2 linked regions of the Homo sapiens genome follow. The protein of the gene in region 1 interacts with the protein of each later gene in a pairwise test. Each region holds a gene or a part of one and is shown in the gene's direction. Other genes may lie near its edges.

Evidence for each region. The genes of interacting proteins can lie anywhere in the genome.
Region 2: the proteins of TMEM120B (region 1) and SLC10A1 interact in binary tests that used the Homo sapiens proteins (3 or more experiments, as listed by UniProt).

The regions. Positions count from the first base shown.
Region 1 is NC_000012.12:121,743,752-121,747,251, forward strand, and holds part of TMEM120B (transmembrane protein 120B), read left to right. Parts: intron 1-3,500. UniProt on the Homo sapiens protein: Necessary for efficient adipogenesis. Does not show ion channel activity.
Region 2 is NC_000014.9:69,787,242-69,790,741, reverse strand, and holds part of SLC10A1 (hepatic sodium/bile acid cotransporter), read left to right. Parts: intron 1-3,500. UniProt on the Homo sapiens protein: As a major transporter of conjugated bile salts from plasma into the hepatocyte, it plays a key role in the enterohepatic circulation of bile salts necessary for the solubilization and absorption of dietary fat and fat-soluble vitamins.

The DNA.
Region 1 (3,500 bases):
GTGCAGCTGTAGCCCGGGGGCTGCCCTGGTTCTGAGGGACAGAAGTCCAACTCAAAACAGGCTGAAGCAGAGAATGGAAATCTCAGTGGAAAAAGACAGGACTGGGAGTTGCTTCAGGCATCACTGGATCCAGGAGTCAAAGGGTGTTTTGGGGCATGTATTTTTCCCTCTAAATTCTGCCTTCCTCTGGATTGGTGTCACTCTCAGGGTGACTGTCCCCTTCACCAGCAGTGCCAGGCTTATATTCTCCAGCCTTGCTTCCTGCCGGCTGTGCCACCCTGGCTGAAGGAGAGTGTCTCTCTTTTTTTTTTTTTTTTTTTCTTGAAATGGAGTCTTTCACTCTGTTGCCCAGGCTGGAGTGCCATGGCATGATTTCGGCTCACTGCAACCTCTGTCTCCTGGGTTCAAGCGATTCTCCTGCCTCAGCCTCCTGAGTAGCTGTGATTACAGGCATGAGCCACTGTGCCTGGCCGAGAGTTTCTCGTTCCCAGTACTTCAGCCGACATTCTGGGTTCAGTCCTCATTGGCTGGGATTGGTTGAATGCCCATTTGTGAACCAATCACTGAGAAGCTGCTTGGGCAGCGCCATGCCGTGTGCTAAGTCTGTGGCCCTGGGCGGTGGAGGGATGGCCACATGGGTGATGGGAGAAGAAGATAAGTAGTTTCCCGGGTGAAAGTTGGGTGCTGTTATAGGAAGGTGCCCTGCCGGACAAGTAAGCAGGCAGCGTCCTTTTGTGGGTGTGGGGTGCCCTCCCCACTGGGGTTGCTGGTGTAGTGGCCACTAGGCTGCCATCCCTGGTGGAGATGTGCTTGAGCTCATAGCTTAGTTCAGTTCCCAAGGCCTGGATCGTGTTCATTTCCTGACACTCATGGTCTCCAGGTCTGGGAAGTCCCCTCCTGCCTGGTATGTGAAGGGGCCCAGTGGATGCCGTGACCCCATTGTCAGGCAGGGAAACTGAGGCTCCAAGTGACTTGTCCCAGGTCACTTAGCTGGGCCTCCATTTTAGAATCTGGGACTCCTGGTCAACTCTTTCCTTGTGGACAATTTTGGAGGAAGGTCCTGATTATAGCTCTCAGTGTGGCTGGCCATTTTGGAAATGGAGGCCCGCAACTAAGGGGTAGAGAGTGTGGATGGCCCTGTGCAAACACGTCACCAGATGTGGCTTTGGAAAAACACATCTTGGTAATGGCAGGGCTCAGAGTCTAGAGTTTCTTCAGATTCTCAGTGATTGCTTCACAGATGGGCACATGGCGAACCCCAGCACTATTGATGGGTCTTTGTGGGGGCCGTGCAGTGCACTGTGGGATAGTGAGTAGCATCCCTGGCCTCTGCCCACTGATGCCAGTAGCACTCCTGCCCCAGGTGTGTCCACCAAGATCTCTCCAGGCATTGCCAGCTGTCCTCAGTTGAGAAGTGCTGGGTTAGAAGGTTGACCCGTGAGTTAGGGTCTTAGACCAAGGACCCCTGTCATTCTGAGATGTGTCTGCTGACTTGTTTTCTGGTTTTGAGAGTTCCGTGTTACCAAAGAATAACAGACCATGATTGGTCGACTGCTTATGCTTTCAGGTGCCTTTTTGTCTGTCTCTTGGTCATCTGTAGGTTATTCCTTTATTTCTATTTTTTAAAATTATTTTCATTCATTCATTCATTCATTCAGAGATGAAGTCTCGCTCTGTTGCCCAGGCTGGGGTGCAGTGGTGCAATCTCGGCTCACTGCAACCTCTGCCTCCCGGGTTCAAGCAATTCTTCCTGTCTCAGCCTCCCGAGTAGCTGGGATTACAGGTGCCCGCCACCACGCCCAGCTAATTTTTGTACTTTTACTAGAGACAGGGTTTCACCATGTTGGCCAGGCTGGTCTCAAATTCCTGACCTTAAGTGATCATCCTGCCTCGGCCTCCCAAAGTGCTGAGATTACAGGTGTGAGCCACCATGCCTGGCCTTACTTTTTTTGAGATAGTGTCTTGCTCTGTCACCCAGGCTGGAGTGCAGTGGCGCAATCACGGCTCACCACAGCCTTGATCTCCTGGGCTCAAGCGATCCTCCCACCTTAGCCTCATGAATACTAGGACTACATGCATGTACCACCATGCTTGGTTGTTGTTTTTTGTTATTGTTGTTGTTGTTTTTGAGATGGAGTTTTGCTCTGTCACCCAGGCTGGAATGCAGTGGTGCTATCTTGGCTCACTGAACCTCTGCCTCCCGGGTTCAAGTGATTCTCCTGCCTCAGCCTCCCAAGTAGCTGGGATTATAGGGGCCTGCCACCACACCCAGCTGATTTTTATATTTTCAGTAGAGACAGGGTTTTGCCATTTTGGCCAGGCTGGTCTCGAACTCCTGACTTCAGGTGATCTGCCCACTTCAGTTTCCCAAAGTGCTGGGATTACAGGCATGAGCCACCACACCCAGCCCCTGGTTGTTTTCTTAAACCGCCCCCCCACTTTTTTTTTTTTTTGAGACAGAGTTTCGCTCTTGTTGCCCAGGCTGGAGTGCAATGGTGCGATCTTGGCTCACTGCAACCTCTGCCTCCCGGGTTCAAGCGATTCTCCTGCCTCAGCCTCCCGAGTAGCTGGGATTACAGGCATGCACCACCATGCCCAGCTAATTTTGTATTTTTAGTAGAGACGGGGTTTCTCCATATTGGTCATGCTGGTCTTGAACTCCCAACCTCAGGTGATCGGCCCACCTCAGCCTCCCAACGTATTGGGATTACAGGCTTGAGCCACTGCACCCGGCCTTGGTTGTTTTCTTTAATTAATTTTTTATAGAGACGGGGTCTTGCTATGTTAGTCAGGCTGGTCTCAAACTCATGGCCTCAAGTGATCCTCCTGCCCTGGCCTCCCAAAGTGCTGGGATCATAGGCGTATGTGCTGGGACTATAACATCATGCCTGCTAGCTATTTCTTTAGAAAAATGAGAAGAAGGCCGGGCGTGGTGGCTCACGCCGGTAATCCCAACACTTTGGGAGGCCGAGGCAGGCAGATCATGAGGTCAGGAGATCGAGACCATCCTGGCTAACATGGTGAAACCCCATCTCTTCTAAAAATACAAAAAAAAAATTAGCTGGGCGTGGTGGCAGGCACCTGTAATCCCAGCTACTTGGGAGGCTGAGGCAGGAGAATGGCGTGAACCCAGGAGGCGGAGCTTGCAGCGAGCCGAGATGGCGCCACTGCACTCCAGCCTGGGCGACAGAGCAAGACTCTGTCTCAAAAAAAAAAAGAAAAGAAAAGAAAAATGAGAAGAAAAATAGTATTGTCAGTAATTATCCCTTGAGCTCATACTATCAAGTATTATTCTAGATGCTCTATGCTGTACTTACTCATTTAATCCTCACCAGGCTATTGTCTGTGAGGTAGGCTTGAGGTTATCCCGGCTTTTCAGGTATGGAAAATAAGGCAGAGAGGTTTAAGGACTTTCTGAAAGTCACAAGACTACCTGGGAGGCAGCATCACTCCTCCAACCCCGAGAGTTGAGATGGGGAACTGCGGTTGCGAGAGGCACT
Region 2 (3,500 bases), on another chromosome or scaffold:
TAATGACTATCTTTGCTTTATTCCTCTTGTTAAAGAAAATCCCTCTATTTACCATTAAGTTTAACGTTTAATATACTTTTTCTAATAGATTTCCTTTCAAGTTAAGGAATTTTCATTCCGTTGCTAGTGTACTAAATTTTTATTATGTAAGAACATTAAATTTTGTTGACTTTTCTATAGCTACAAAATTGTACCATTTCTTTAATAATATAGTAATATGTATTAATAGATTATCTAATGTTAAATCATTCTTACTCATCTTGTTCATTGTATTTTTTAAAACACTTATTTGCTAATATTTTATTATTTTTGTTTCTATGTTCATAAATAAGAGTGGTCCCCAATTTTCTTTTCTCGTAATATCATTCTCCAGCTTTCGTTCCAAGATCATATTAACTTTATACAATAAATTAGGGCATGTTTCCCCTTTTTATATTATCTGGACAGATTTGCATAATATTGCAACAATCTGCACTTTGCATGTTTAGTAGAACACTACCGTAAGACAGTATAAATCATGTAGGGTTCTAGAAGATAGGTTTTGAACTGCTTATTAAATGTCTTAAATGATTCTAAGTTGAATCAGGTTTTCGGCTTCATATTGACTTGGTTTTGTAGGTTATATTTCCCATGAAATTGTCCATTTAAGTTAAAAATGAAAGTATGAAAATGTCCTTAATGACTTTTTAAAATCTTCATTTTCTCTGTAGTTATGTTCCCTTTTTCACACTAACCTCATCAATTTGTGCCATCTCTCTTTTCCCTGGTCTGCCTTGCCAGAGGTGCCTATTTAATTGGCCTTTAAAAAAAAAAAGAAAAAAAAAAAACCCTATTTTTGGTTTTACTGATTCTAACAATTTACAAAACTTAAAAAATTTCTTCCTTTTCTTTTTATTGGGTTTTTCTCATTCTAACCTCTTAAGGTGCTTAACTCATTAATTTTTAATCTTCTTTTTCAATATAAATATGTTAGGCTATAAATTGCCCTTTAATAATTGCTTTATTTGCTCCCTGCATGGTTTTTAATTACTATTTATTGAGATATAATTCACATACCATAAAATCCATTCTTTAAATTGTACGATGCCTTGGTTTTTAGCATAATTCCAAGCCTGTGAACCTATCACCATTATCTAATTTCAGAACATTTTCAATACCCCAAAAAGGAACTCCATCCCATTTAGCAGGAGTCCCCATTTCTCTCTCCTGCTCCAACCCTTGACAACCACTAATCTTTCTGTCTCTATGGATTTCACATAAATGGAAGCATTCAATATGTGACCTTTTGTATCTATACTTCTTTCACTTAGCATATTTTCAAGGTTCATTCATGTGATAGCATGTCACAATACTTCATTTGTTTTTGTAATTGAATAATATCCCATTGTATGGATATAATACATTTTGCTCATCCATTCATTCAGCTGATGGACACATGGGTTGTTTCTACTTGTTCCCTAGTATGAATAATGTCTATGGAAGCTCACAGGCAAGTTTTTGTGTGAACATGCTTTCTGTTCCCTTGGGATATATACCTAAGAGTAGAATTGCTGGGTTATATGGTGACTCTGTGTTTAAATTTTCTAGAAACTGCCAAACTATTTTCCAAAGCACCATTTTACTTCCCACCACCAGTGTATGAGGATTCCTAATTTTCCATATACCCTCCAACACTTGTTATTGTCCAGCTTTTTAATTATAGCCATGCTAGTAGATATAAAGTGGTATCTCAAAGTGGTTTTGATTTGCATTTTCCTAATAAGTAATGATGTTGAGCATCTTTTCATGTGCTCATTAGCCATTTGTATATCTTCTTTGGGAAAATATCTCATTCAAATCCTTGGCCCATTTTTTACTTGTTTTTTATTATTGCATTATAAGAGTTCTTCATATATTGGCCGGGCGCGGTGGCTCACGCCTGTAATCCCAGCACTTTGGGAGGCCCAGGCGGGTGGATCACGAGGTCAGGAGATCGAGACTATCCTGGCTAACACGGTGAAACCCCATCTCTACTAAAAATACAAAAAAAATTAGCCGGGCGTGGTGGCAGGCGCCTGTAGTCCCAGCTACTCGGGAGGCTGAGACAGAAGAATAGCGTGAACCCAGGAGGCGGAGCTTGCAGTGAGCCGAGACTGCGCCACTGCACTCCAGCCTGGGCGACAGAGCAAGACTCCATCTCAAAAAAAAAAAAAAAGAGTTCTTCATATATATTCTGAATATTAGACCCTTATCAGATATATGACTTGCAAATATTTCCTCCCATTCTCTTGTTGGCTTTTCACTTTCTTGATGGTGTCCTTTGAATCACAAGTTTTTAATATTAATGAAGTCTGACTTGCCTTTTTCTTTGGCTGTTCGTGCTTTAGATGTCTAAGAAACCATTGCCTAATCCAAAGTCCCCTCTCCATGTTTTTTAAATATGTATTTTATTATTTTTATATTCTAAATACTGTTTCCACCATGATTTCATATTTGATGATATAATTAGAAAGTTCCCCTCCCCTCATCCCATGATCCTTTTATTGGTTGCTCAGTTTCAATGCTCCTCCCATCCCAGGTCTAATACCTCAATTCTGGTCCCTTCCTTGGGCATTAAAGCCTCCACAGTGCCAAGACTAACACCCCACTCCCCTCCAGAACCCCTCTATGAAGCTTCAGCTTGAGTTCCCCCACTACTTTGCATTTGTTTCTTGTCCGTGGGCACCTTTTTTTTTAGTGGAGTGGCGCTAACATAGCTCACTGTAACCTCAACCTTCTGGGCTCAAGCCATCCTCCTGCCTCAGCCTCCCAAGTAGCTGGGACTCCTGGTGCACACCACCACACCTGGCTAATTTTTGTGTGTGGTTTTTGGTTTGTTTGTTCATTTGTTTGTGTGTAGAGACAGGGGTCTTACTTTGTTGCCCAGGCTGGTCTCAAACTCCTGGCTTCAAGCAATCCTCCCTCCTCGGCCTCCCTAAATGCTGGAATTATAGGCATGAGCCACTATGCCACACTTAAATTGAGTGTTAATTTCTTACAAGCTCAAGTGTGTATTTAAGTGTTCACGGGGGTGGGGGAGTTCCTATTACCTAGTTCACAATTTTCTTTGAGGGACTCTTCTCACCTCTAACAGCTCTTATCCTTATGACATGCCTACCTATTGTTCTTGATGGCTACGCTCTGGAACCTTTGATATAGGCTGCTCTTCATGCATATTTAAGCCATATTCCATCTTTATAGAAATAATGAAAGAAGTGTAGATGGAGGGTAGGGCTGTGGGGAGGAGGAGGGACACACTGAGTGTGGTTTTCCTAAGATCTTGCCAAGCCCTCACCTCCCAACCATCTTCCCACTGGAATAAAAGTCAGAGCCATATATTGTTAATGTAAATGTCCATAAATCTAAGGAGATGCCCTATCAGCTTCCTTCTCAGTTGACCTTTCTGGAGGGCCTCTCCCTAGACAGGGTCCTGGGACTAACATATATAAGATTCCAAATGGAAAAGGAAATTGGACAAGTAG